Regions from separate parts of the Homo sapiens genome. Here regions 1, 3, 4 and 5 are each reported to be linked to region 2. The links are microRNA targets in miRTarBase. Many come from high-throughput screens and were not tested one by one. Region 2 holds a microRNA gene; each other region holds the end of a gene's coding sequence. Distances are from middle to middle.

The links. Region 2 holds the annotated microRNA hsa-miR-548aj-5p (UGCAAAAGUAAUUGCAGUUUUUG, at 3,884-3,906, opposite strand). A microRNA usually pairs through its seed, bases 2 to 8, with sites in the 3' UTR of a target mRNA and lowers its output. Matches are read on the target gene's strand: a 7mer-m8 pairs with bases 2 to 8, a 7mer-A1 pairs with bases 2 to 7 and ends in A, and an 8mer does both.
Region 1: the mRNA of CYP2U1 is a reported target of hsa-miR-548aj-5p. Seed matches in the 3' UTR shown: 8mer at 2,002-2,009 and 7mer-A1 at 1,398-1,404.
Region 3: miRTarBase lists HBP1 as a target of hsa-miR-548aj-5p. Seed matches in the 3' UTR shown: 7mer-m8 at 1,394-1,400 and 7mer-A1 at 1,516-1,522.
Region 4: miRTarBase lists SLC48A1 as a target of hsa-miR-548aj-5p. Seed matches in the 3' UTR shown: 7mer-A1 at 3,689-3,695.
Region 5: miRTarBase lists CGAS as a target of hsa-miR-548aj-5p. Seed matches in the 3' UTR shown: 7mer-A1 at 1,662-1,668.

Annotation. Positions count from the first base shown.
Region 1 is chr4:107,949,740-107,954,739 of GRCh38, reverse strand. It overlaps CYP2U1 (cytochrome P450 family 2 subfamily U member 1), which reads right to left. Exons shown (of 5, transcript NM_183075.3): 5 at 1,279-4,495. The coding sequence ends at 4,317. All of the region lies in intron 1 of LOC107986298 (a long non-coding RNA gene), which reads left to right. Among named protein-coding and RNA genes, the nearest start is that of CYP2U1-AS1, 20 kb to the right of the region's middle.
Region 2 is chr4:147,340,798-147,347,065 of GRCh38, forward strand. It overlaps MIR548G (microRNA 548g), which reads right to left and starts at 3,920; the gene lies at 3,832-3,920.
Region 3 is chr7:107,200,951-107,207,112 of GRCh38, forward strand. HBP1 (HMG-box transcription factor 1) reads left to right here. Exons shown (of 11, transcript NM_012257.4): 11 at 464-1,572. The coding sequence ends at 481. It overlaps COG5 (component of oligomeric golgi complex 5), which reads right to left. Exons shown (of 22, transcript NM_006348.5): 22 at 422-2,680. The coding sequence ends at 2,566. It overlaps LOC124901720 (a long non-coding RNA gene), which reads left to right and starts at 2,680. Exons shown (of 2, transcript XR_007060471.1): 1 at 2,680-3,541; 2 at 4,743-6,162.
Region 4 is chr12:47,778,993-47,785,260 of GRCh38, reverse strand. It overlaps SLC48A1 (solute carrier family 48 member 1), which reads right to left. Exons shown (of 3, transcript NM_017842.3): 2 at 6,066-6,233; 3 at 2,510-5,116. The coding sequence ends at 4,980. HDAC7 (histone deacetylase 7) reads left to right here. Exons shown (of 26, transcript NM_015401.5): 25 at 1,044-1,182; 26 at 1,375-2,539. The coding sequence ends at 1,420. Among named protein-coding and RNA genes, the nearest start is that of SLC48A1, 8.9 kb to the right of the region's middle. RefSeq lists a silencer at 5,676-5,725.
Region 5 is chr6:73,419,578-73,425,634 of GRCh38, reverse strand. It overlaps CGAS (cyclic GMP-AMP synthase), which reads left to right. Exons shown (of 5, transcript NM_138441.3): 5 at 57-1,924. The coding sequence ends at 408. Among named protein-coding and RNA genes, the nearest start is that of DDX43, 28 kb to the right of the region's middle. RefSeq lists a silencer at 3,755-4,049.

The DNA of each region.
Region 1 (5,000 bases), 39 Mb from region 2:
ATACATCATCCTACTCTATCCTTGGCTGCAGGGATTTTGCTGAGCAATCCACTGAGAGTCTTATGGATAATTAGCCTTTTCCCTTAACAAAAACTGATTATTTGACCCTCATACAAAGGGAAGAACTGATAAGAATATGAAATATCTTAGCCAGGCATGGTGGCACACACCTGTAGTCCTAGGTACTTAGGAGGCTGAGGTGGGAGGATCACTTCAGCCTGCAGTGAGCCGTGATCATGCCACTGCACCCTAGCCTGGGCAACAGAGTGAGACCCTGTCTCAAAAAAAATAAATAAAATAATATAAAAGTATATCATTTCAATGATGATAATACCAAATTATTTACTAATGAACAAATACCCTACTTAAATGAATTTGGTTTCTAAAAACAGTGCAGCAAAACCGAAGTAGATTTGAGGGTGCCACATTATTTGGTGTTCCCCTTGTTTCACTACTGTTATTTCACCAGAACTCATACTCTGGTGGCACAAGCCACAGTCACTGAGGCAGCAGACAGAAAACAATGACAGGTTTGCCTGTATCATCACCTCTGTAGCCTAAAGGGTCAAATAATCACCTTCCATCAAACTCACTTAATTCTTCATTTGCCCAACATATTTACTGATGCCTGCTCTGCATAAGGCATCCACTCTTGGTAAGTTATCAGATATAGTCAGTCCCTGACATCCTCATGGAGTGGAGATGAGAGAGAGGATAGAAACAGAAGGTTTAAATAAACAAGGTAGTTGCAGTTAGTGATGAGGGCTCTGGAGGAAATTGGGTGATGAGATTAGGGAGTTCTCAGGAAAGGCCACTTTGGATGTCATGGTGGGTGACCTCTCTGAGGAGATGCTGTCTGAGCTGTGACTTCAGGAAGAAGAGTAGGCTGTGGAAAAAGCTGGCAGGGGGTCCCTCCACAGGCAAAATATGGTTCAAGTATGAAAAAGCTCTTTTTCCTGAGCTGGGAAGTGTGAGACCAGCACTCAATACTTGGCCACAGCAGGCTCATGTGGGCCCATCTCCTCTCAACTCAACTCATGCTGGGCTTCTACAGGGAATATAAGACACCTGGGTGGTGATGCAGTCCTCTAAGGAACTTCACTCCATGGGGAAAGTTTTAAAGAATTACCCTTGTTTCTAAGGACCATGCTTACATTCTATTGTGGACATCTGTCTTTGGAGGCCTATTTTCTTTTCTTTTTACATTAACTTGACATCTGGTAAAACAAAATTTTGCATAGCAATTAAATCAAAACAAAAAACAGACATGACACTTTCTCAGTTAAAATAGTTTAATAAAAGCAACAAAACTGTGCTAACGATGAGAATCAAAAATGAGATATTAGGTAGACTTATAAAACAAAGTATAGTTATTTTTTGATTTCAAATAAACCATGTGCAAAATTGTAAAATGCCAATGTGTCTGAGAAAAGCATTAACAGTCCTTTTAGCAATTTATATATAAAGATGTTTTTAAAGTGCCACAGCTTAAGGCATTATATTTTAAAGTTTAATAAACATCTAATTTCAACATCTCTCCAAGAACAGACTTCTTCTCAATAAGCTATAAACTATTTGGTTAGGAATATTGAAAATGCATGTATAATTTAAGGAGTAATATACTTGTTAATGCTGAGTTATTAGTGCAATTCAAAAGCATATGAATTCCATATCAAGAACAAACTCTCCCGCCCAAGGTACAGTGTAATCCACACTGTATCATCTCATCTAAAAATCTATACAGCAGCTACCCCATCCACTCAGTTCCTCTGCAGTTAGGCTATTAGCTTTTCTTTTTCAAAAAGCAAAAATTCCTAAGACACCTAAAGATTAGCCTGTATTTCATTTATCTATACGGAAAGTGCTTAGTAATATTTCTAAAAAGGAAAAGAGCAGTATGGTAGATAAAGAATGTAGAGTCAAAAATCAATCATTTTAAAATTTTTCTTCTTCCTATGATTATGTTTTGGTTAAGCAGATATTATTTTCATTTTTTGAGCTTGCAAAAGTCTGCCTAGGAATGTGCTAAATCAAAGGAAAAATCTAGCCTCATGTTCACAATTGCCCTGGAATGCCATTCCCAGACTGAGATCTAACTACACAGAGTATGGCTAACGGCAGAAGTCAGAGGTTAGGGAGATCTGGTGTCTCCATTTATCTGGAAAACAGAGCAAAGAAGGGTGATCAGTTATAGAAGGCCAAACAGAAGTGTTTTAAGTTCAGAATTTCATCTTTCGTTTAATTTTCAAAGTAACAGCCACTCTGGATCTTTTCTTGCCCTCTTCTCTATCAGTATGAACAGCGTAGCTGCTTCTCTCCTTTAGGAAAGTCAGTGTGAGGTCCCTGGATATGGCCTAGTCTCCAGGTGGTGGGAGTTTACATTCTGTTACCTATAAACAGCTAAGGCATCGTTCTAAGTTTGTTTAAAATGGTTGTTTTAAATGGTAAACACAAAAGTCCAGTGATTTTTTTAAAAACTGGCTTTAATGGACATTAACAAATAATATACACTGATTTATCACCTTTAAGCAACAAAAACATGACTTGTAATTATTCAAATAAGGTAGGATTTTTCTCTTAAGTACACTTCTTAAAAGTCATTCACAAGACAACTGGGCATCCACTAAGACCAAGGCACTGTGAGGGAGGCAAACAGCACAACATCCTCACCTCAAGGAGCTCAGCCTGGGATGAAGACAGACACACACAACTCCAGCATGAGGCCAAGGGGTAGCCTGTTATGGGATCAAGTGGTGGCAGAATCAAGAAGTGGTTCTGAAAGTGTTCTTTAGTCACAGAGACCAGTAGGTTTGAAACCCAGTGATGTTACTTTTTAACTTTGTGCCTTACCTACTATAAGCCTCAGCTTCATCCACTACAGTATGCCACCCTCTTAATAGAATTTATGTAAGAATTACAGAAACATACAAGTAAAGGATTAAGTGTAGAGCCAGCATGAGGAAAGGTTCAGGAATGTGGTTGCTCATATGACTGCTATGCTTACTTCTGTACATGGAGCACTGTGGGAGAATAAAAGAAAGGGGTGGTCATTCCTTAGAGCATGTTCTCACTGGGGGAAATCCTGGCATCTTGAGCAGGACAATTCTTCACTGTATAGGACTACCTTGACATTTAGCATCCTGGTCCCATGGCAGCAGAAGGCCAGTAGCACCCCCATCATTATGATAACCAAGAATCATACCCACACATTTCCAAACTCCCTCTGAAGGGGTTACCACCCCTGCTGAAAACTGCTTTTCCAGAGGGACCATCTACATTTAGAAACAATTTAGTTCTCTTAATAAAAAGAGAGTGAATTCTTTGAGAGTATATTCAAGGATCAGATGCATTGGGCCTGGTGGCAGGGACGCTAGGACAGGAATGTTCAGTATAGTTTGAAAGCAGAATCCTTTCCTGATGAGTCCCAGTATCAAAATCCCCATGCTCACCATTCAGGCCTTAAGTAAAAAGGTAGAGCTGCATCTTTGCAAATAACTCAGTAGAAAGGAATTCTGCCAAGAAGCTACTAAAGAAGTAGCAAGGCTCACTGTTCCTGTAGTTGTAGTAGAAGTTAGACATATAAATTTAGATAATAATCCTACAAGGGATTTTTTAAAATTATAATTTCTTTTTTCCTCAATATACACGACAGAGTCCACTTCATCCCACATCTACAAAAAGTAAAAACTAAAATCATAAACAAAAAGATAGTGACAGAACAAGCCCAAAGAAGCTGGCATAGAATCTGTGCTGAGAAAAGTTCTCCCCCAGTATAACCTAAATCCACACCCATCTCTGACAAAGCATTCCAGGCTGAACACCACTTTCATGTTGTCATAGGTCTTTAAAAGCCAGCTGATAGATCTTCTTCTCCTGAAGTTCTTCTCCAGAACTTAACAGCATTTTAGAGATATCAGAAAAGATGTAAGGCATTTGACCATCATTAGTGCTGAGAGGTAGAGAGAAGCCAAGTTTTATTACTCTCATTTTACATATGGGATGTCTGAGGCACTAAGAAATGAGAAGATTGGCCCATCGGTGGAAGCCACTGCAAGTAAAATCCAGATATCCCGTTTCATAGGTACTTTGTTTTCTATCCCCCAAATCACAGACCTGCATTACTAAAATGGCTGAAGTATCCTGCTGAGGAATCCTCCAAGATGAAACCTCCCAGTGTGCTCTACCCTCCTTCCGACCTCTGAGCCCAGCTTGGATCCACTGAGTTGCTGGATTCACTGTCCTTTGCAGTAGGAAGAATCTGCTTAGAAGGATATGTATTTATATATCTTTTTACCATCTCTTCTTGGAGATGCTCTTCATCTCCTTGAAATAGTTATATTAAATGGATGTGGGGCTAAAGTTAGACCAAATCTTCCAGTCAGGAGGGGCTTCTTAGAATCCTCAGGTAAAGCAAATGCGAAACTCTGCATTAGGCTCACAAACATTAGGAATAATTCCATCTTTGCCAGTTGTTCTCCCATACACACCCGCTTCCCTAAAAATGAGATCAGAAAAAAATGAAGGATTATAATACCATCCCTTCTCCTATTTCAAAAAGTACAAATTTATATGAAATATCTAAATTGAGTATTCTAAATGCAGATGGAGTTTTTAAGTCAAATTGCCATATATACCACATAGCCTCCCACAGCATATGCTGATCAGAATTTTTACATATCAAATCCACATTTTAACTCTTACTCATAAAAACCTATCCCCATTCTAGACAGGAACTAGAGACAGATCCAGTGTGGCAGCTATCCTGTCTCTTCTGTGCCTACTTACCTCTTTCCTCCACTTTTGCCTGGAAGATTAAGGCAAAAAAATTCAGATAAGAATCCCTAGAGCCTCCCTTTTTCCACAGAAAGAATTCTATGTTCCTAATCTAGGAACCTAAAAGAGGAACTGTTGAGATTAGAGAACCCATCCTCTCACCCACCAGACCAGATCAGAAATTGCTCTTAAGTAGCTCCCTGGGACCCCCCAAAATTACCTGATCA
Region 2 (6,268 bases):
AGGATGTCTGTCTGACTCTCCCAGGTTCTGTCCTCCTCTTCGACTCCTCCAGAACAATACCCCCATTGTTCAATGTAAATAACAATTGTAGAGCTTCAAGTACTAGTTCCTTCCAACTACAGTCATTCTGAAAGCTTTTGCTCTCTGCATTTCTTTCTCTTTTATGAAAGTTAACAACAAACAGGCAGATCACGGGCTGCAATCCACAGAGTAAATTAAAGCCATTCCATACTCAACAGTTTCCAGACATTTTTCATATCTGCAGACCAGGCCTACAAACTCAATTATTTTCATTCATTTCAACTTCTGTTCCAAAGCCCTGAGAATGGAATAAATTAGGCGGCTGATCTTTAAAGCACTATTTCTTTAGAGAATGCAATTCACAGGATAGACACCATTTCCTATGGAAAAACAGCTTCAGAAGTAGGGTAAGAGATACGCAACTGTGTTCAATGAGATTTCAACGGAGACAGGAATGTTGAACAAAAAGAAGCAGAGGCTCCAACTCAATAAAGCACCTTGAACATTCCAGGGTCTTTGATCTTAAAAAATGAAGCTTTGGAATACCACTGTAACAGTCTTCTGGAATATTTCCAGTTTTGTTGTTTCCTGAGAGAAAGGAATCTCAAAAACATGTGGACATGCAGAAATCTCATCATGTTTTTTGATTTCATCTCCCGGTCCCATACCTTTTCAGATGCACTCATGCTAACCCTCTGAGATACATTGCTACAAAGGATGTATACATTTGTGTGGAACAGAAAATCTCCAAATCAATTTGAAGACAAGTGCCAAAACAAAAATGAGTGTTTAACCTGGGCTCTCTGAGTCAGGGGGCATTGAATAGTGAGATACAAGAAAGGTTGAAAAAGAAAAAGAAAAAAATGCCAGAGCTTCTGATGAATGGTGGAGAAAGTGCTTCAAGCAATTCTCAAAATTAAAAATCAACTTTGGTTCCCACCTAAAGCCAGAGATATCAATACAACCCTTTCCACAATACCAGAAATAAGTGGATATATTATGACACGATGAAGCTTAAGCTCTGCCCTCCCAGGACAACTCTGTTCCTCATTTTATATTTGTAGTTTTCAGTTATTTTTCTTATATAATCCTCCCTCAATTGTTTAAGATTTAGGGTCTTTAAAATATGTATTCATTTCTTCACCACACATTTGCAGAAGCATTCCTGCATTGCTTTTTTGTTTTGTTTTGTTTTTTAACAAATATAACCAAACACAAAGAGCAACAAAACACTTCAAGCTGGTTACCCAGTGACTATGCTTGAAATCCTTCAAAGGCTTCCTATGATACTTTGAATAAAATCCAGACTCCTTACTGTATTCTGCAGAACCCTCCATGATCCAGCAATTTCTTCCTCAATCCCAAATCATTCTGTTCTCCCTCTAACCCATATTCTGATCACACCAGCCTCCTTGCAGCACCTCTGCATTGCCAATCTCTTTCCTACCTCAAATCCTTTGGTCGTTGTTTCTGCTATTGCACCCTTCTTCCCCTTTTCACATTGCTGGCTCCATCCTCTTTGGGGGCTTCTGGCCCTACCTGATTACTCTAAATAAATAATCATGCTCTCTATCTCCTCACTCCCACTCGGGGTTCTCTATTATACCCCCATGTTCTACTTTTTTTTTTTCTTAGTAACTGTCCATCTCCACTGCAATCCTGCAAGCTCCATCAAGGCGGCAGTGGTGTTTGTTTTGTTCATCACTACAGAGGATCCAGCTCCTAGTCAGTGCCTGATGTGTAGTGCCCGCTCCATCAAACTGTGTGCAGGCCGGGCGCGGTGGCTCACGCCTGTAATCCCAGCACTTTGGGAGGCCGAGGCAGGGGGATCACAAGGTCAGGAGATCGAGACCATCCTAACTAACACGGTGAAACCCCGTCTCTACTTAAAAAAAACTAGAAAAATTAGCCGGGCGTGGTGGCGGGCGCCTGTAGTCCCAGCTACTAGAGACGCTGAGGCAGGAGAATGGCGTGAACCCGAGGGGTGGAGCTTGCGGTGAGCCGAATCGCGCCACTGCACTCCAACCTGGGCGACAGAGTGAGACTCCGTCTCAAAAAAAAAGAAAACAAACAAACAAACAAAAAACTGTGCAAAGAATGGTGAATGAGTCCTGCAATCAATTAATTTCCCAGTAATTGAACATAACTCTTTAAAGCACAGAAACTAATAAGAACATCAACAATAACAATTTCGGGGCCGGGCGCGGTGGCTCACGCCTGTAGTCCCAGCACTTTGGGAGGCCGAGGCGGGCGGATCACGAGGTCAGGAGATCGAGACCATCCCGGCTAAAACGGTGAAACCCCGTCTCTACTAAAAATACAAAAAATTAGCCGGGCGTAGTGGCGGGCGCCTGTGGTCCCAGCTACTTGGGAGGCTGAGGCAGGAGAATGGCGTGAACCCGGGAGGCGGAGCTTGCAGTGAGCCGAGATGGTGCCACTGCACTCCAGCCTGGGCGACAGAGCGAGACTCCGTCTCAAAAAAAAAAAAAAAAAAAAAAAAACAATTTCGGTGGAAATCTTCCCATGTCTTTTAAAATTGACAACTTGAATGTAATATAACATTTTCCTGGCAATTCTTTGCTTATTACAGGTTGGTGACTGTGCCCTGGGTGGTAGAGTTTGCCAGATAAGCCATCCCTGAATCAGTGAAGTGTGATTGAACAATTAAATGACTAAAATGGTATAGCCTCCATACCCATTTGCATTCTTTGCACTTCTAGTCTAAAAAGGGCAAGACAAATGCAATTGTGTTGTGGAGAAATATTTGGATTCTTTTGGAGAGAAAAGGAAAATCAAAGAAAAATATTATGCATGGTATGAATTGGGAGTTTATAATTCAGAAATTTACTAAAAATAATGACAAGAACCGAAAGTGAAAAAAGTAGCTTTATTTTTAGATATCTCTCACATGTGAGAGAATAACCTGATATTGGCCAATAACCAAATTAATTATTTGTTTCTCCATGAAGACTCCTTTCTGAATTAGAAGGAGAAAGAGGTGAATTGAAGAGCAGATTGAAAATGGAGATATAAAATCAATGACTCTTTTTTAAGGATGAGTCATCATGGCTTTTCTAGATGATTGATTGTGAAGTGGAAGAAATAGAACGAATTAAACTATAAGCATTTGAGCCCAGTAGTTCTCTGGGGCACTCTTCTCCACTATTTGAACTATCTTTATTTCATAAGCTAAGACTAAAAACATTGCCAAAGTGAACTGGTTCTCCAGAGTTTCTAGAGTGCATTATTATCATTCTCTAAAATGAAAATACATCTGATACTTCAAAAGACACATTGTTATGTTTTTTAATGTTTTGCTTATATTTCATCTCATTTTGAAAATGATTGAAGTAGCTTATAATAAATACACATAAACAATAAGCAAGTAAATAATTGCAATTGGAAACTAATTCTAAGTGAAAGACAATTATATCTAAGCTAATATCAAGAATGGACAATGACATTACATTTAACTCTGAGCTTTCTAGATGCCAAAATAAGGGCCAGTGATGAATTATGCATTGTTTATCTGAACAAAAGAATTATTTATTTAAGAGTTACACATCTTCTAAGACATATTTATGCATTTATTGCATGGATCCTTTTACAAATGCATTTAGACAACATAATAGACAACCACAAACAACTCCTGTCCAAATGTTTATAGGTTCACTAATGCATACCTACATATTAGTAAATAATTTATTTATGCACAAGTATGCTATGTGTGCATACATGTATATTTCTGAGTTACAGCATGTAATCTATATACACACATGTACATAACCATACATACAGATATACATATATGAAGTATTATGTTGGTACAAAAGTAATTACAGTTTTGCCATAGAACGTAATGCAAAAACTGCAATTACTTTTGCACTAATCTAATAACTCAGAGAAAGTGTTTCTCTAAAGGGGTAATGAAGTTGTGTAGATTGCTGGCAATGATGGCCCCAATTCTTTTCATCCCTGCGTGCTAACACTTGGTAATGTGATTTTGTCACTCCCTTGTCAAGTGGTAGAGTATAGTTCTCTTCCCCTTGCATCTGAGCTGTCTCTGTGGCCAGCTTTGGCCAATAGAAATGACTTTGTATGGCTTCCTAGCCTGGGCTTCAAGAGGCCTTGCAGCTTCTGCTCTCACACTCTAGTCCAGGCTAGCCCTCTTATGGATAAAAGCACATGCTAGCCCTCTTGAGGATAACAACCACCCTCAGAGAGAAGCCCAGCTGATGGTCAGCACCACCTGCCAGACAGTTGAAGAAAGCTTCTTTAGGCCATCTCACTCCAGTCGAGATACCAGATAACTACAGCTGCATGAGTGATCCCAGGAGAAGCCAGCAGAAGAACTGCCCAGCTGCAAACAACTCAAACTGGTAACCACCAGAATCATAAGCTAAATAAATTATTGTTTTAAGCCATTGAGCTTTAGGGTGGTTTTTATATAGCAACTGTTGATATAAGATTCAAGGTATAAAATTTCCTTATTTAATAACAGAAAAAAAGTGGAGTAATCTAGGGAACTATGGTTGCTCACATCACATTTCCCTAAGTTCTTTAAGGAGTTCTGAGAAAAGGGAGATGAAGAATTTACTTAGCTACATGTTTTTACCCCTTGGGTAGAATAAGTGTAAACTTACTTTTTTTTACAATACTTGCTCTTCTGACTTTTAAAAAGATAGATTTTAGTTAAAGGAAAGAATTCCTAGCAACAGCCCACATATTTTCTATTTCCTATTGCAGTCAATATGTTCCTAACTTTTTGGCCTGAATTTTCCAGGATAGTCCTGAGTTGTCATCATCAATCTATGCATTATTAGGCCTAATCTTCTGATTTGGAGTTGGAACAATATAGAAGCTATGGTTTGGCTGTGTCCCCACTCAAATCTCATCTTGAATTCCCACGTGTTGTGGAAGGGACCCAGTAGGAGGTCATTGAATCATGGGGGCAGGTCTTTCCTGTGCTGTTCTCAAGACAGTGAATAAGTCTCACAGATCTGATGGTTTTATAAGGGGGATTTTCTCTGCACAAGTTCTCTGTCTTTGCCTGCTGCCATTCATGCATGATGTGACTTGTTCCTCCTTGCCTTCCACCATGACTGTGAGGCATCCCCAGCCATGTGGAACTGTAAGTCCATTAAACCCTTTCTCCTATATAAATTACCCAGTCTCTGGTATGTATCAGCAGCATAAAAACTAACTAATACAGATGCTATATCTATATATTTTGAATACCAAAAGTATAATTGGCAAGTTAGGCATTTTCTTAAGGCATTTTCAAAGCCTGATCTGTATTCTCGCCAGATGGACAACACCCCCCAACTTTTCACAAAAGCATGTTATTCTTTTAATGCATGCAGATCAACAAAGCATGCACATTGAAGGACGTGCTGTCACTGGTATTGAAGATAAGACTCACGTGGACTGTGGCAAAAATAGAAATGGGAGACCAAAAAATATGTCTAATCTATTAGTCCAACCTAGTGATGATGGTGACTTGAACTAGAGTGTTGGCAATGGAACTGGGGAGAAGGGATGACTTCAAGGTTTTCTTTGAAATAAAAATGACAGGCCTCACAGAGAAAAGAAACGAGTAACCACTAATTCTGCTCTGAACAATTAAGTGGGTGGTAAAGGCACAAGGTGTGTGTGTGTGTGTGTGTGTGTGTGTGTGTGTGTGTGTGTGTGTGTAGGCAGGTTAAGTTTGAGATGCTTGTGAGACATCCAAGTATACATGTCAAGTATATAGTTAGATAGATGGGCCTGGAATGCAGATGAAAAATTAAAATGGGAATATTAAGTGTAGTGGGCAAAGGGGCTAGCAGAGGATAGTGAAGTTAAAGAAATCAAGTGTCAAATCAGTTAGAGCTTTATAGGATCCATAGTAAGAGCTTTGGATTAATTCCAGTGGCTTTGGAAACTATGGGAATTTTTTTAATAGGGATGTAAAAAATCTGAGTTACATTATAAAAATTACTTTGGCTGCAGTGAGAAGTAATGTGTGGAAAGCCAAGTTATTATAAACTAGACATGATGGTGGCCTGAGGTAGTATGTTAACAGTGAAGACAGTGAGCAGTGGCTGGGTTGGGGACATGACTTGAAGGAAGAACCAGCAAGACTTGCTGACAGATAGATGTCCTGCAGAGAATATTCTTGAGCAAATGAGCTATGAGGATAACAAAATGAAATAGATTTGAGATTTCAGAGGTGATGCAATTTCTGGATTTAACAAGATCCAAGGCA
Region 3 (6,162 bases), not on the chromosome of region 2:
TGAAGTATCATTGAAAGATGAAGGGAAGATATCAATATTTTTATAGTAGGAGGGCTGGCCAAAGATGTTTTAAATTCATTGTGTACATGTGCCTGTTTCTTAGTAAAATGCAGGTCATATCTGTTTAAATTTTTCACAATTTCTTTAAAAATAGTGGTCAGTCAGTAGTCAGATGAGAGGGTGGCTGAACTGAATTTTGGCAGTTCTTGGTTAATTTAGAATTTCATGTGTTCGGACTTTTCCTGTATCCCTTTTCTGTTCATCCTAGTCAATGTCTTATCATTGCATACATTTTCTGGATGCTTGAGCCATCAGATATCAGCTAGCTTTTTAAAATCACCTTTAAGAAAGCAGTATTTTCTAATAGTAAATTTATAAACATCTTATACATCTTAGCTTTCATATATAGGATTACTATGTATTGATTTGTAAACATTCACTGAGTTTAATTTTATTTCCACAGGGCTCACAACAACATTAAACCAGGATGCTTATGTTCTTAAGTCTATATTTGCATATACATTGACTCTTGATGGAAAGACTTAAGAAGATCAAGGTCTCACCATTTGTCCTCAATTCGTGTGACCATAAGATACTGATAGCATTGAGTCTTGAAATGATTTAATAATATGAGTGAGGATTTGCTTTCTCCATTAGAGCATTAAGCTAAAACTATCAACATTTTAAACCAAATTGCCTTATTTTTCTTCCAAACTTCATATATGTCTATCAGGTAATAATAGGCTTGAAAATTGATATCCTGTGGTGCTAAAGTACAGTAGAAAGAGAGGAGAAGTGTATACATGTTTTATTTTAAATTGTACGAAAGGGGAATTTAAAAAATATGTAACTGCTGTTTATACATTGGCTCCTTACTGCTTATTAATCTGTATTGTACACATGATGAAATGAAGCAGAAGCTGGGAGTCGGCCTTTCCTCTAGTAACCACCACATGGCTCAGCATCTGTGCCAAACATAGGCGCTCCTAGTCTGGTCAGTGCCAAGAGGCTACCAGAACATGGGGCAGGTGGCTGGTGTTGGTGTCCCAGCCTAAGAGCCACCTGCTGCAGTTACCATGGCATGCTGAGTTGATGCACCAGGTGGCAGCAGCCATCCGTTATTATTTCCAATGGAGACCTAGCCCAGGCCAAGGTAAAGTTAGTTAATAGCATTGGGATATAGTCACTGTAATGGTGCTATTAACAAACAGTCAACACCATTGTATTTTTTAACTTCGTGTTCTGTATCTCCTCAGCCATGTATCTTAAATATATTTTGTCATCATAATCTTTATGGTGGGGGCAGACTTTGCACTTACTGCAGTGCAACACTTGCACTTTAATTTTCCTCCAACTGTCTAAAATTAGAGCAAATACATTGGCAATACAGCTGCTTTTGCTCTGAGCTACAATCATGGCTTTTCATGTTACTTACCAAGTGGTGTTTCTGGTTAGGAATCACAGCTGTAAAATTGATTTCAGTTCATCACACTTCTTCATGATGTTGCCCCTAAATTTTGCACACTATATTCTTGTATATTATTTCAAATAAATGGAAAAAAAAGTTGCTTATCTCTGACGTCTACTGATTGATTGATTGATTGATTAATCTTGGCTGAATTTTATTTATGAGTTCTCAGAATAACAGGTTCAGGAGATGAGATGGAAAACATAAGGCAAATTCCTAACACTGCTAATTAGGAGGCTGCTGATAGGATTTTAAAAATTAAAAACAATGTTAATAGTGGAACAAGAGCCATCAGAAAATAAGGACTTAGATTATCTACTATTTATAGAGAATTGCTATACAATAAAAATTTTTATTTTTCACGTGGCATTTTTGTTACACGGTTAAACAGCCCAAAGGTCTGCTTTTAATAACATGACAAAGTGTAACAAAAGCCTTGCTTTATTTAAAGATCCAGTATGACATACTTAAAAAGGCCATTTAACCTTGTATCTTAGCTTGGGATGTGCCAGTGGTTCCTCAACTTTGTTGTCTATTGGAATCATTTTGGGGATTTTTTTTTTTTTTAATAGTGGTGTCTGTCAGGCTCCCACTCCTAGACATGTTAATTAATGTGGAGTGCAAGTTGGGCATCAGGATTTTAAAAAAATCCCCTGGTGATTGGTATGAATGTGCAGCCAAATTTGGAAACCACTGAGCTACATGCTTATTTAGTGAAGAAGGCAGGGTTGGGGGAAGCAGGGTACATGTTATAACTTGATCATATCCCTTTAAAAGAAGTGGGGACTTTGGGTTTATGTACCCATAGGAGGACTTGGTTATGGATGGGAAAGACATTTTAGCCTTGTACAAAAATCTGAAAGAGGAAAACATCTTTCTGGAAAAATCAGGTCCATGGAATTGAAAGGTGGTGATAACTCAACATTTTTTATGCTAAAGTATAAGTGCTAAAGAGGTAAATAAACGTCGATAGGAAATACCGAACAATCAATTACATTCTTAAAATAGTAGATAGTAGCAGTCTTTTGGAGTATGTGTTTAACTGCCAACTATGAATGGGTTAGCACAAAGTGGAGATGAACAAAGATTTCATGTCATTACTGAAGAGCAGACATAGCCTTTTGAAGCAGCTGAACCATTATGGGATAAACTGGTGCAAATTCTTTGCCTTCTCTACTTCTCACTGATTGAACATAAGCTTCCAGGGCTCCCCTGAAAACCAAAATGAAAACAATGTCAAAATATTAGATAAATCACATAAAACAGTTAAGGGGATACCAATATATAAAAATTATTAGTAAGCTCATTTCTGGAACTGTTAATGCTCGGTTTCACAAGCCAAGTGACCAACAGCCTTCACTCAGTTACTGGTAGTGTTACTATGGTTACTACGGTTACTACGTTTAGTGTGAAAAACTATAACCATGTTTTCAGTCTGCATTGTTCTTAGTGGTCTAGTCATATACTCGGAGTCCTCTGGCTGTGTAAATATGTTCTCAATTTCCCTTTTCCCTGCTTCCCTACTGAAGACACCGGCAACGGAATGGGCATTTGTGCCTACTCCCAGAGCTCACGAGGGGCATCCTGCGCCTCTGAAAGGCACGCTCAAGAGTACAAGGGGATGGGGCCCTTTGGCACATTCGGTAACACCAGTAGATGCATTATATTCCTGTTATTTGATGAACTATGAACAACCAACAACTAGAATAAGTGCTCTTGGGCTGTAATGGCAAAATACATGATCGGGAAGCAGTCTGAATTTAATCAAGGGGATGTACCATTCCATTGTTTATGATTATGATCTCATGGATTAGGTTGGGGGTTAGCAAACTGCCTGCAGGCTGAATCTAGCCTGATGCTTGTTCATTTATATATTGTCTGTGGCTGCTTTCACACAATGGCAGAGTTGAATAGTTGAGGCAGAGACCATGTGGCCTGCAAAGTCTGAAATATATCTGGCCCTTCTTTTACAGAAAAAGTTCGTCAGTCCCTGAACCAGATCGTCTGTTTAAGTGGAGCTAAAAAGAATGGCTACGAGATTAATTTTTAATTATTGGTCTATTTAAGTACCAGGTACACAAATACATTTTTGTCATATTTTCTTCAAAATTTCAGTTTGAGATTGGAGCATTTGTATAAAGATGTAAGTTAATACCATTACTCAGCTCACATACGATAGCACTTAAGTGGTTTTCTTTTGCTCTCAAATACTGAAAATACTAATCTAATTGGGTTTGTTCAAGATTTTTCATTGAATTGTGGGGAAAACATTTCCCCAGAGTCTGGCTATCACTGATCAGTTTGTAGTGCCCTTCATCCCACAAGCCACTGTCATACGTAAAGGGATTTCAAATCTCTTAAGTTCCAGCCCTCGACCTCCCCCTCCTGATCTCTGCTTCTTCCTGTCCTCTGGACAGTTTTATCTGACTTGCTTCCAGGTAGCCTCAAACTCATTTGTCAAAAAATTGGGGCAGCGTTCTGCCCGCCTTCCCTTATTTCAACAAAGGGCACCATCAACTTAAGGTCTCTTAGTTCTTTTCCCCTCCTACACCGAAACAATTACCAAATCCTATTAATTTGCTACACACATTTCCACATCCAGTCCCTCCTCTCCCCTTCGCTTCACTTTGAACCCTTGCTATCTTGTGCCCTAATGATTGCTGTAGCCTCTTAAGGTGGTGAGCATCCTACTGCTGTTTCTCCCCTGTTCTGGTCAGTCTTCCATATTATAGCAAGAGATTTCCCCTGAAGTATTACAGCACTTGCCGTGCCCTGTTCTTTATAGGAAATCTGGAAAGGTCTGACTTCTGTATCAACAGCCTTGACTTAGCAGGATCCAGCATTGTGGAATTCCTGAAGGCTGGTTCCATGCTCTGGTCAGTGCCTAGACTCAACCCAACTGAATACCAGCTTCATCATCAAGCTGCTCCCAGCCCTTTCTGTGCTACTGCTGGGTTTTAGATAGCTTGATGTGGCCTAAAAAGACCCTCAAATCATTAGTTTCCATTTTTGTGTTACCAAGTAATGTGCAAAGCATATTTGCCCCATTTGTATGGCCCAACCTGGCTGCCCACCTAGGGAAAGATCAAGGGTGTTTGTTCATACATTGCTATGAAATAAAGCTGTCTCTGCCTAACAAAGTAGGGGGTGCCAAAGGGCCTGTTTATCTTTGGCCATACTGAATGTTTCAGTTAAAGAGCCACATTCTCTTAGCCCTTTGCACATTATCTTCCTTATCCTTAGAATACCCTTCCTTGCTTACTTTCTTGCGCAGCTCTTTATCTCTTAGGACTCGGCTTCAATGCTCCCTTTTAAGGAAAGCCTTTCTTAACTCCAGGCAGCAGGAAAGAATGGAAACCATCTTGGAGTCACACAGGTTTGTGAAACGATCTCACCTCTGTATCAACAGCCTTGACTTAGTAGGATCCGGCACTTTGGAATCCCTGAAGGCTGGCTCCATGCTCTGGTCAGGGCAGGAGTACTTTAAATCAGGTATGCAGGGGGATGGGCAAGCCCTTACTGAAGAAGTGTAGCTGTTTTTTTTTTTTTTTTATTTTTTTGAGACGGAGTCTTGCTCTGTCGCCCAGGCTGGAGTGCAGTGCCGCAATCTTGGCTCACTGCAAGCTCCGCCTCCTGGGTTCACGCCATTCTCCTGCCTCAGCCTCCCGAGTAGCTGGGACTACAGGCGCCCGCCATTGCACCCGGCTAATTTTTTTGTATTTTTAGTAGAGACGGGGTTTCACCGTGTTGGCCAGGATGGTCTCGATCTCTTGACCTCGTGATCCGCCCACCTGGGCTTCCCAAAGTGCTGGGATTACAGGCGTGAGCCAGAAGAAGTGTAGCTGTTTTAAATAACATGTAAGTTCATACCATTACTCAGCTCACATACCCAGTTTCAAGTCCCAGCTAACATACCACTCTCAACTGGCATGCAAGATGGAATTTAGTGCTCTTAGAGAACAATGTTTTGTGAGATGCCTTAGTTAAACCAGAGCTGACCCTGAATGGAGATATTTTTCTATGAAAAAAACTTGCTTCTTTTGGTAATATGCTTCTAGTTGGTATGCCATCCTGGGAAATTGTCTCCACTCCCCAAATGTAGTCCCTACAGAATCATATACAGTAAAGAAATCCCCAAGGGCTCATCTGTCTTTAAGACACCAAGGTGTATGTATCAGCGTATAAGAAGTGTTTAAATTCACAGGAACTACAATCATTTCATAGTGAATGGATTAGATATATTTGATGGACAAAAATCAACTTAGTTTCGTTGGCATTTAAAAGGATAAGACATCACGTAAGTTACACAACATGTAGAAGAGATCAGAAATGAGTTTGGTTAGATTTTTGGGTAGTCATCAAAAACACCATCAGAAGTATGGGGCAAAAAAGATTAAGCTGCCCTCCCACATGAAATTAGAGCAAGATTTTCGAGTACTTATTAAATTACTTCATTTGCTTAAGCAAAACATTAGCTTTCTTGGAAGTCAGGCCAAGTGTTATGTAACAGTTAGTCTTAACTCTGGTTTGTAACCAAAATAAGTAGATTATTGAGGTTATCCTTATTGAGAAAAAAAACACGATTAGTAGAGGAATGGTTTGTGGTAACATGGCAACACTGCTCAACATGACAAAAACTAGCCAAGTGGAAGTTTTCATGGAAAACAACATTGATTTTTGTCAGGCATTTAAAT
Region 4 (6,268 bases), not on the chromosome of region 2:
ATTCCTGTGAGTGACCCAGGCAGCAATGGTGAGCACCCCCCAGTGAGGGGTTATCCTCTGAGCCCCCCCGATGGAGCCAGCAGGGCCTACCAGACAGTGGCCCCTCAAGGTAGGGACTGGCCTCCATCTCTAGCGACAGCCCTAGACCAGGGCCAGGTCAAGAGCAACACTCAGGCCTTGTTTGCCAAAAGGCCTGGTTCCCATCCCTCCCCTCAGTCCTGGCCACAGGCGTCTCAGGAGCTCTGCTGGCTTGGGGGCTGCGTCTTGGGATAACCCCCACATTTGTAAAGTACTTTAAATTTTCAACTTCAACTCAACATCTATTGAGCATCTTATGTCAAGACCCATAATCTATACTAGGGATAAAAATGAGTAAAATAGATTCCCATATCAAGGGCTGGGTAGGGGAGCCGTGATGTCTTTACATAATGGTAAAGACATGGCTGATTCCTCTTACGGTGGGTGCCCTCACACTGAGCCAGATTCCAGGACATGGTTCCTCACAGCAGCAGGCAGGAGGAGCATTCTCCTGGCCTGGGCACCCATGCAGAGCGGCCGTGGTGATGGTCAGTTCTCCCATGTTGTGTTCGTCCCACCTCCCAGGCCCTCCTTTCCTGAGTGCTGGGCTGAGCACTGGTGGGGGCTGTGTTTAAGTGGGAGGCCCGAGCTTGGGGCTCTGGGAGGTCACTGTGACACAGACCCTGTCTGCAGGCAAGCAGGCTCTCCTGATGCTCTCAGGAGCCCCGCACCTGTGGGGAATGAGTCAAAGGTGGCCTTGCAGCCACAGGGGATGAGAGAAAGGCTGGGCACCTGCTAGGACTCCCTCACAGCCATGTTGAACCCACTCTGTGTACCCTGTCAGGCTGTGCGGGAGTGGGAGCGAAGTGAGGAGAGGGGCAGGTGGGAGAGCCGACCCTAAGTGGAGGACAGGCCCGCTCCTCCGGGGCCCTGGGCCTGAGACACCAACCTCAATATCCGGTCTAGGACGCAGTGTGGAGGGGCTTGCTTTCTCCAACCCTTTCTGACCTGGCATCTTACCCCAGGTAAATACTGGGGCTGCATGCAGCGCCTGGCCTCCTGTCCAGACTCCTGGGTGCCTAGAGTGCCAGGGGCTGACAAAGAAGAAGTGGAGGCAGTGACCGCACTGGCGTCCCTCTCTGTGGGCATCCTGGCTGAAGATAGGTAATGCCAGACCCCTGGCCCTGGGCCCACAGCCTCTCCACCGCTTCATTCCTCCCTGCTTGAAGACCCCGGGTCCGCTATGCAGCCACCCCAACCCTCCCAGGCTTCCTGACCAGGGTTGAGAGGAAGCTTAGCTAAGGCCCTTGCTGCAGCCCTGGTGCTCCAGCATCCCACCCTTGTCCCTCCCCACAGGCCCTCGGAGCAGCTGGTGGAGGAGGAAGAACCTATGAATCTCTAAGGCTCTGGAACCATCTGCCCGCCCACCATGCCCTTGGGACCTGGTTCTCTTCTAACCCCTGGCAATAGCCCCCATTCCTGGGTCTTTAGAGATCCTGTGGGCAAGTAGTTGGAACCAGAGAACAGCCTGCCTGCTTTGACAGTTATCCCAGGGAGCGTGAGAAAATCCCTGGGTCTAGAATGGGAACTGGAGAGGACCCTGAGAGGAGACGGGCTGGGCGGCGACCCCCACAGGGCTCTCGAGAACAGATTCTCCCCTCCAGTATGGGCCCTGGCTGTGGCCCCCATTCCTCAGGACTGCACAGAGGAGGACTGGCTCCGGCTCCGTCGGGCTCACCCTTAACCACTATTCCTGGCTCTGCAAACCCCAGACTTTGCACACAGCCTCAGGCTCCACACAGAAATGTGAACTTGGCCTCAGACAGGCTGGCCCTTCCTAGGCTCTAGGGGCTAGGGGGGAGTGGGGAGCCAAGAGGTCCCATATTCCTGAGTGCAGGGGTAGTCCCTCTCACCTGCTTCCTCAGACGACTCTGGAAGCTTCCCTCTACCACTGGGCACTGAGACGAAGCTCCCTGACAGCCGAGACTGGCAGCCCTCCATCTGGTCCGTACCCTCGCCAGAGGCCCCCCTACATCAACCTCCTGGCGATGCCCTGGTGGAGCAGATGGGTGCTCTGGGAGTCCTGTGCTTCCTGATCCAATGGTGCCAAACCCTTCATCTCCCCAAGAAGCGCAGCATACCCCTGGGACCCCTCGGCCACTGCCCACTCGGGGAGCCTTCTCTGTTTCTGGGGCCTCCCCCACCATAGCTCTGATTCCCACCCCACATAGGAGTAGCCTGACTGAGGGGGAAGGGGTGGGAGAGAAGATACAGACATGGAGGAGGGGAGGCTGCTCTGGCAAAGTCTTCAAGGCTTTTGGGGGTCCAGGCCTGGGGTCAAGAAGGAAAATGTGTGTGAGCATGTGTGTGAGTGAGGCGTGTGTGTGAGCGTGTGTGTGAGTGAGGCGTGTGTGTGTGTCTTTCCTAGGACCCACCATACCCTGTGTATGTATGCATGTTTTTGTAAAAAGGAAGAAAATGGAAAAAAATCTGAACAATAAATGTTTTATTTGCTTTAAAAGTGCCTCTGAAAGGGCCCCCCAGAAGTGAGCAGTGCGCCGTCAAGCGGGTGTGCAGGGCACACAGCTGCACGGCACAGTGTGGGTCTGAGTCACTGCCGGAGGAGGGACCAGGGTGGTCTGGGCCGCAGCCCCTTTAACAATCTGCCCTTCCTGCCCTGCAGGAAGAACCCATTCTGAACACACCCTGGCTGTCCCTGGCTGCCCCACTTTGGGGTGACAAAGAGGAGGCAGCCCTGGGCTGAGTCCACAGAGACCAGCCCTGATATGGCAGGAGTGGGGGTGGGGTGGGGGAGTGGGAATACAGGAGCTCAGCCCCAGCTCACCACGGCATCCCCGAAGAGTTGTGACTCAGACACACCTGGGTTTAAGTCCCAGCTGGGAGCTCAGGTAAGTCAAATCGTCTTCTGGGGCCTCTGTTTATCAGTAGAAGGCTCCAGAAGTATACACTGTTGATGGCTCCTTCCCGCTCTGATGCACCATGCCTGATTAAGCATACACTGAGCCTAGAAGAGAGAAGGGGTGAGGCACAGGCCTGGACAAGCTCACCCAGCCTAAGCAGAGAGGAAGGCGCCAGGCTGGCAGCACCTGCCTTTGTGGTTCTGAGTCTGTCCGGTTTTTCCAGCAGGAAGAGGAGCACCTCATTACCTTAGACCTGGCCCAAGCTCCTGGCAGCCTGGCAGAGTGTGAGGGAAGAGGCGCTAATCCCTTTCCCATCTGGCCTGGCCTCTCGGGTGTGGACACCAAATCCCGCAGGGGTTGCTGTAGCTATGCCCGTGGGCATCCTTGCCCTGGCTGGGGTGTGCTAGAGAGAGGAAAGCTGGAGGAGGAGAGCTGAGCTGGTGGTTACCCCATGCCAGGAGGGCCAAGGCAAGAGGGCCTGCAGCCCCAGAGATACTGACTCTGTCCCCTGCCCTCCAGGGCACAACTGAACTAGCGGAATGGCTTAATCAGATAGCTCGAGAACTGCCACTACCACTCCCTCCCTGCCCACTCCTCCCAAAGTCCACCTGTTCCCGCAAGAGTCCCACCTCACAAGCAACCACCAGAGGCTGATACAAATGGCCGCTGTATTTTTGCTAAAGTGACAGTGACACAGATAAGGCAAAGAGCTGAGGGGCAGGACACATCAGATGGGAAGGGGGAGACCGTGCAAAATGGCAGTCTAACAGAAAATCATCCTTGTACCAACAGCCCCTTCCCTCCCAAGTTAGGTGAGCCCTTGGGCCAGTGTATGGGCAGAAAAGCAGATTTGTGTCCTTCAGAAGGGAAATGTAAAAAGGTGAAAGCTCTAGTTGAAGGGCAGTGAGAGGGGCTGGAGTGGGAGAGAAGGTCTCTCCTGGCCGGTGGTCTGGGTGCAGCAAGGGCACTCTGAGAAGGCAGAATGGAAACGCAGGGCTGGAGGGGCATGGGTACAGGTTTGGGGGCTCTTTCCAGCCTCTACTATGTTGCCCCCTTCCCCAAAGCCCTTACAGGGGCAGAAGCACATTCCCCGTGACCCTGAGTCTGGCCTCATTTGGGAAGTCTTCTGGGGTGTATGGATGCCTGTGTGTGTGAGTGAGATGGGTGGGGGGCCACGGCTATCTGGCTCTAGCACACTCATGGGAGACCAGCTCTGGGAACAACAGGATGGGGTGCTGGGATGGGGGTTTAAGAGGTCTCTGCTAGATATTTCTGAACTGACCTCCCCAGGTGCCCAACCTGGCCTTGGGAAGAGAGTGCCTAGGGCAGCGGGGATGGAAACCCTTGCCTGCAGCATAGGTCCAGGCCTCATGGCCCTACACCTTGACCTCTTGACTTTGTTGCCCTGGCCTTAAGTACAAAGATTCCTCACTGCGTGCTAAGAAAACAGATCCAGGCCGGGCACGGTGGCTCACACCTATAATCCCAGCACTTTGGAAGGCTGAGGCGGGTGAATCACCTGAGATCAGGAGTTCGAGACCAGCCTGGCCAACATGGCAAAACCCTGTCTCTACTAAAAACACAAAAATTTGCCGGGCATGGTGGCAGATGCCTGTAATCCCAGCTACTTGAGAGGCCAAGGCAGGAGAATTGCTTGAACCTGGGAGGCGGAGGTTGCAGTGAGCTGAGATCGCACTACTGCACTCCAGCCTGGGTGACAGAGTAAGACTCCATCTCAAAAAAAAAAAAAAAAGAAAAAAAAAAGAAAGAAAAGAAAACAGATTCATTTGAAAAGGTCTAAAGCTGCCCTCTGGCCAGGCTGATGAGGAGCAACATGGCAGGATCCCCTCTCTACCACACTCAGGTTTCCTCGAAAGGGGACGGGCAGGACAGCTTCCTGGGAGACCACACTCGTCCTGCTGTGTATTTTCTGCCACAGTTCTGGGGTCACCAGGGGGTGGGAGTAGCCTCTCCCAACATCTCAGAGGCTGAGTCCAGGTCCTAAGGCCCCCCCAGGGTGCAGAGACCTCACCCCCTGGGTCAGAAATCGCTGAGGATGCTGATGTCAGCAAAGTCAGCCCGGTAGCGGTGGGCATAGAGGCTGAGCAGGAAGGCCCACTTGAAGGAAATGAAGCTCCAGACGCTGGAGAGGTAGTAGCTGGTGGGGTCTGTGAGGCCTGCAGGGAGAGAAGTACCGACAGTGACTTTGGCAGGCCCTGCCCTCGGCCTCTGCACCGGCCACAAGGCCAGGGCCACCCTCCCCACTCAACATCCCTGCAACGTCCTGGCAGCTGAACCAACCCTTCAGAAAGACACTGTGATGGAGGTTTTAGAGCCATGGTCCCCAACCTTTTTGGCACCAGGGACTGGTTTTGTGGAAGACAATTTTTCCACAAAAACCTTGGGATGGTTTGGGGATGAAACTGTTCCACCTCAGATCGTCAAACATTAGATCATCAGGGGCACGCAACCCTCGCATGCGCCTCACAACAGGGTTTGCGCTTCTAATGCCCGCCGCTGACCTGACAGGAGGCAGAGCTCAGGCGGTAAGGCTCGCTTGCCCCTCACCTGCTGTGTGGCCTGGTTCCTAACAGGCCACGGACCACTACTGTTCCACAGCCTGGAACAGTAGAACGGAGCTGGGGACCGTTTTAGAGTATTCCAGGGTTTTCAGGCAGGAGGCCGTGGGGATTAGGGAAGGGCAGGGCTGGCCAATCACAGGTCTGTATCATCCACTCCGCTTTTGTGACAAATACCCTAGGCCACCTCCAACCTGCTTTAGTTAGCATCAGACTCCCGGAAGAAGGACCTCTGGTTATTTCCAGCCACAGCCACCAGAGGGCGCTCCCATCCCAGAGCTGAGCACAGACTAATGGGTCCCAATATCAGGAGTGCTTGTATGGGCTATGCACTGCTCAAGACTTCACATCAGTTTCATAGAATCCACCCAACTTGCGAGGTGGGGACTTGTTTTCTCCACATGAACCATAACAAAACCCGTGTCCGGGGAGGTTAAGTAATTCACCCAGTCTCTTTGGAGGTAACCTGTGGAACCAGGATGGGAATGCTGCTAAAATCCCCGCTGCTGTCCCTCCCATGCCCTCTTTCCCTGGGACCCGCCCTCACTCTGATGCCGGGTGATGGCCAGCACGAGGAAGGTGCAGAAGGCAGCGATGGAGACGGCCGAGAAGAGGACGCCCACGAAGAAGAAGCCGCGCAGCCCCTTGAGCCAGGTCCTCCAATAATCTTGCATGTACATCACGTGCGTCACCAGGACCCACAGTGCCAGCACCCCTGCAGGAGAGACACATCAGGGCCCATCCCCAGGG
Region 5 (6,057 bases), not on the chromosome of region 2:
ATCCTTTGTTGAATGTAAATAAGTAAAAATAAGTGTTTTCCTTTTTTATTCAACAGGAAAGATTGTTTAAAACTAATGAAATACCTTTTAGAACAGCTGAAAGAAAGGTTTAAAGACAAAAAACATCTGGATAAATTCTCTTCTTATCATGTGAAAACTGCCTTCTTTCACGTATGTACCCAGAACCCTCAAGACAGTCAGTGGGACCGCAAAGACCTGGGCCTCTGCTTTGATAACTGCGTGACATACTTTCTTCAGTGCCTCAGGACAGAAAAACTTGAGAATTATTTTATTCCTGAATTCAATCTATTCTCTAGCAACTTAATTGACAAAAGAAGTAAGGAATTTCTGACAAAGCAAATTGAATATGAAAGAAACAATGAGTTTCCAGTTTTTGATGAATTTTGAGATTGTATTTTTAGAAAGATCTAAGAACTAGAGTCACCCTAAATCCTGGAGAATACAAGAAAAATTTGAAAAGGGGCCAGACGCTGTGGCTCACACCTGTAATCCCAGCTCTTTGGAGGCCGAGGCAGGCGGATCACTTGAGGTCAGGAGTTTGAGACCAGCCTGACCAACATGGTGAAACTCCATCTCTACTAAAAATATAAAAATTAGCCGGGCATGGTGATGCATGCCTGTAATCCCAGCTACTCGGGAGGCTTAGACATGAGAATCACTTGAACCCAGGAGGTGGAGGTTGCAGTGAGTCAAGATGGCACCACTGCACTCCATCCTGGGTGACAGAGCAAGACTTCCTCTCAAAAAATAAATAAATAAATAAGAAAAATAAATTAGGAAATTATTAAAATAATTTTTTAGAAAAGCAACAAAATAACAAAAATTAGTGACTGTAATAATTGGAATGTTTGAAATTTGTCACAGCAATAATTGACTAAAATGAATGTAAATAATTATTCAGTTTTCAGTTTGTTGTAATAAACTCTAATCAGTATAAAGGATTGACTATCCTAGGAAAAAGATTAGTCAAGGAATAAGAAGCAAAAGTAGTATTTGAAATCTAAAAACATTACCATGTTTGCTTTATCATGCAGGCAAATAAATAAATAAATGACATTTTTAGGTTGGAATAAAAAAAGATAAAGTACATATTGCCTTAATTAAATTCATCAAGTTCTTACTGAAAAACAGCTCTCCGCCGTGCCTGGCCAGGAAATACATAATTTTTTTTTTTTTTTTTTAGATGGAGTCTCGCTCTGTCGCCCAGGCTGGAGTCCAGTGGCATGATCTTGGCTCACTGCAAGCTCTGCTTCCTGGGTTCATGCCATTCTCCTGCCTCAGCCTTCCGAGTAGCTGGGACTACAGGTGCCCGCCACCACATCCGGCTAATTTTTTGTATTTTTAGTAAAGATGGGGTTTCACCATGTTAGCCAGGATGGTCTCGATCTCCTTACCTTGTGATCCGCCCGCCTTGGCCTCCCAAAGTGCTGGGATTACAGGTGTGAGCCACCACGCCTGGCTGAAATACATAATCTTAAAAGAAAACATAAGATACTTTATTTTAATATACGTGACTAAATGTAAAACCTAACTTATTTTCTGTTATCTATTTATTTTTACTTTCAGTAACACTTTTTTTATTTTAGGTAGCATTCAGCCTAGAGGCAACTGCTGTTTGTTAAATATTTCCTGTTCATATATTTTGCACATTTTCTTATGGGTTAGTTTTCTTCTCATTGTTTTGGGAAGTTCTTAATATATTTGGGGTATTTATCTTTCATTCGTTGTCTGTGTAACAAATAACTTCTGCCATATGGGTTGTCTGCACATTTTTTGGTGTCTTTTAGTAAACAAGGTTTTTTTGTTTTGTATTGTTTTGTTTATTGTAAAGATTTTTAAATTTTAATGGAGTTGATTTCTTTTCTCATTCAAGCTTTTGAGAATAAATTGGAGTTGAATTTTTTATGGTTTTTGCTTTATACATCTTGTTTAACAGCCTACTATGTTTGAACATACTAAGAGAAACATTAGACATTTGAAGAGTTTTGGGGACAATTAATGATAAATAAACCACTATGCAAATAAAATAATCTAAGCAATTTTTTTTTTTTTTGGGACAGTCTCACTCTGTCGCCCAGGCTGGAGTGCAGTGGCACGATCTTGGCTCACTGCACCCTCCTCCTCCCGGTTCAAGCAATTCTCCTGCCTCAGCCTCCCAAGTAGCTGGGACTACAGTTGCACGCCACCATGCCTGGCTAATTATTTTTGTATTTTTAGTAGAGACAGAGTTTCACCATGTTGGTCAAGCTGGTCTCAAACTCCTGACCTCAGGTGATACACCCATCTCAGCCTCCCAAAGTGCTAAGATTACAGATGTGAGCACTGTGCCCAGCCAATCTAAGCAATTTTTAACTCCATAAGAAAAATGAATGCATGAAAGAAAAGTCTGATATAAGAATATTGCTCAGCTGTTTAAGTATTGACAAAGTCATAGTAATGTAACCATTGACTATTAATCTTATTGAAGTTATGGACTGTTGTCGACTTTAAAAAAATTAAAAACCAGGGGCGGTGGCTCACCCCTGTAATTCCAGCACTTTGGGAGGCCAAGGCGGGCAGATCATGAGGTCAGGAGTTCAAGACCAGCCTGGCCAACATGGTGAAACCTCATCTCTACTAAAAATACAAAAATTAGATGAGTATGGTGGTACGTGCCTGTAATCCCAGCTACTTGGGAGGCTGAGGCAGGAGAATCGCTTGAACCCAGGAGGCAGAGGTTGCAGTGAGCCAAGACAGTGCCGCTGCACTCCAGCCTGGTGACAGAGCGAGACTCCATCTCAAAAAAAAAAAAAAAATTAAAAAAAAACTTTTTTAATGTGAAAAGAAAGAAAGAAATTATGATTACCCACTCTGTGGTTAGGATAGGACAATAGGCTTAGTTCCTGTATGGTGACAGTGGTAGGGAGATTACATTAGTTTCCTGTGTAACAATTAACCACAACCTTAGAGGCTTAAAACAACACATATTTATTATCTCACATTTTCAGTGGGCCAAAATTCTGGGTGTGGCTCTGCTCAGAGTCTCTCAAGGCTATAATTAAGACGTCAGCCAGCGCTGTAGCCTCATCTGAGGCTTGACTGGAGAAGGAACCATTTTTGTTGGCAGAATTTAGTTCCTTTACATTTGTAGGACTGAGGGCTTCAGTTTCTTGCTGTCAGCCAGAGGTTGCCCTCAGTTCCTAGAAGCTGTCTTCAGTTCCTTACCATGTGAGCCTCCCAACATAGGCAGCCCACAACAGTAGCTCGATTCTTCAAAGCCAGCAAGGGAGGTACTCCAGCAAGAGGAGTGCTACAAACTTGTTTAACACAATTACATACACATAATTATGTACAGTCCGTTGCCTGTACTGTATTCTATTGATTGGAAGCAAGTCAAAGGTCCCTCTCATACCCAAGAGGAGAGGAATCACTCAAGGGTGTTCTTGTTGTCTCAGATGCCAGCGATACAGTTAGGGGGAAAACAGTTCCCATAAGACCACCCTCATTTCTGTCAACAATTGCAATTTCAAGGGATTCCTAAAACCACCCTGAGGTTTGATGAAAGACTCACAGAACTCACTAAAACCACTATGCTCATGGTTGCAGTTTATTATATAGTAAGCATGCAAGTTTAAATCAGCCAAAGGAAGAAGTGCGTAAGGCAGAGTTTAAGAGAGTAGCAAACACAGCACTTTCTGTTGTCTTTTGGTGGAGTCATGGACATGTTATTCTCTTGGCATCAATGTGTGCCAATACACGCAGAATATTGCCAGCCAGGGAAGCTCACCTGAGCCATGTCCAGAGTTCTTACTGCAGCTCATGGTTGGCTGGACATATGTCTAACCTCAGTCTCCAGCTCCTCTGGAAGGCAAACAGTATAAGCTGATACCATGACCCAAAGACCCCACCATAAATCACATTGTTATACTTTCTGGCACATTCCAAGAATTCAGCCATTACCTTTCAGAAGCCAAGGGCAAAGGTGAGACTTTTCTTTGGGTTAGGTTAAATTCCTTACTACATAGATATGAACCTCAGGAGGTGGGGGGCCACAGGACAACCCTGAGGGTCCGACTGTCACAGGTATGCAAAAACTGAATTAATCTTCCTTATAGTGGGAAGTCAGTAAATGTCAAATTTTTAAAACCAAGAAATTGCAGTATAAGCAAGTTATTAATGGCTAAAAGATGAAAAGGTTACATCTTGGGAGTGGAAAATGAAGGGTGGAAGGGTTCGGGACTACTTTTTTTTTTAAATAAAATGATTTTATTTAGTTAGTTTGTAAATGTGAATATAGTTGGCAAAAACCAAACCAAAACAGCATAAAACCAAAAAATGACAGTTATATGATTGATCATGCCCAAGTACAACAGCATTTATTAGTAGAATATAAAAAATAAATTTTATGGCTGGGTGCCATGGCTCATGCCTGTAATCCCAGCACTTTGGGAGGACGAGGCGGGCGGATCACCTGAGGTCAGGAGTTCAAGACCAGCCTGATCAACATGGAGAAACCCCGTCTCTACTAAAAATACAAAATTGGCCGGGTGTGGTGGCGCATGCCTGTAATCCCAGCTACTCAGGAAGGCTGAGGCAGAAGAATTGCTTGAACCTGGGAGGCAGAGGTTGCAGTGAGCCGAGATTGTGCCATTGCAGTCCAGCCTGGGCAACAAGAGCGAAATTCCATCTCTAAATAAATTAATTAAATTAAAAATAATAAAAAATTTTATTATTGTTGTTATTTATTTATTTATTTTTTTGAGACGGAGTCTTGCTCTGTCACCCAGGCTGGAGTGCAGTGGCGCGATCTTGGCTCACTGCAACCTCCGCCTCCCGAGTTCAAGCGATTCTCCTGCCTTAGCCTCCCAAGTAGCTGGGATTACAGGCACCCACCACCACGCCCACCTAATTTTTTGTATTTTTAGTAGAGACAGGGTTTCACTATGTTGGCCAGGCTGGTCTTGAATGCTTGACCTCATGATCCACCTGCTTTGGCCTTCCAAAGTGCTGAGATTAAGGCGTGAGCCACTGCGCCTGGCCTAAAAATTTTGTTATTTTTATGTGCTTTTTTTCCCCCAGCTTTGACTCTCTGGATGCTTTTGAAAGTTTGAGTTCCTAAGAAATTCCACAGCTAGAGGTTCCTACGATGTCACTGAGTGAGGTTAAGGTTCTGCTCTTATAGGGAGCATCTTATCCTTGGGGATTCTGGACAACTGGACCCCTAGGAACTTGAAAAACAGCTGCTTTCATTGGTATTCTTTTGACATGGGGAAAATATAGCCATTGTCCATTAAAACACAATCCAATTTGGGTACAAGTACTCTTCAGGTTTTCTAAGTTCTCCACAGGAATACCAAGACTAGGCTACCATCTTTTCTGACAACAGACTACTTTTTAAATAAGCTTTGTAAGTCCAAGATTTCTGGCAGAGAAATGTAAATAAAAAATAAAAACAAAAATAAATAAGTCTTGTAGAACCATTTGCTTCCATACATTACATGTATATTTGACTTTGATAAAAATGAAAACAATTTTTTTTTTTGAGACAGAATTTCCCTCTTGTTGCCCAGGCTGGAGTGCGATGACCTAATCTTGGCTCACTGCAAACTCCACCTCCCGGGTTCAAGCGATTCTCCTGCCTCAGCCTCCCGAGTAGCTGGGATTATAAGCGCCCGCCACCACATCTGGCTAATTTTGTATTTTTAGTAGAGACCGGGTTTCTCCGTGTTGGTCAGGCTGGGCTCGAACTCCTGACCTCTGGTGATGCGCCCGCCTCGTCCTCCCAAAGTGCTGGTATTACAGGCGTGAGCCACTGTGCACGGCCTGAACACATATTATTTTTAAATTTTTTCATTTTGCCGGGCGCGGTGGCCTGAACACATATTACTTTTAAATCTTTTTCATTTTGCCAGGCATGAGGGTGGATGCCTGTAATCCCAGCTACTTGGGAGGCTGAGGCAGGAGAGTCGCTTGAACCTGGGAGGCGGAGGTTGTGGGTGAACTGAGATTGTGCCATTGCACTCCAGCCTGGGCAACAAGAGTGAAACTCTGTCTCAA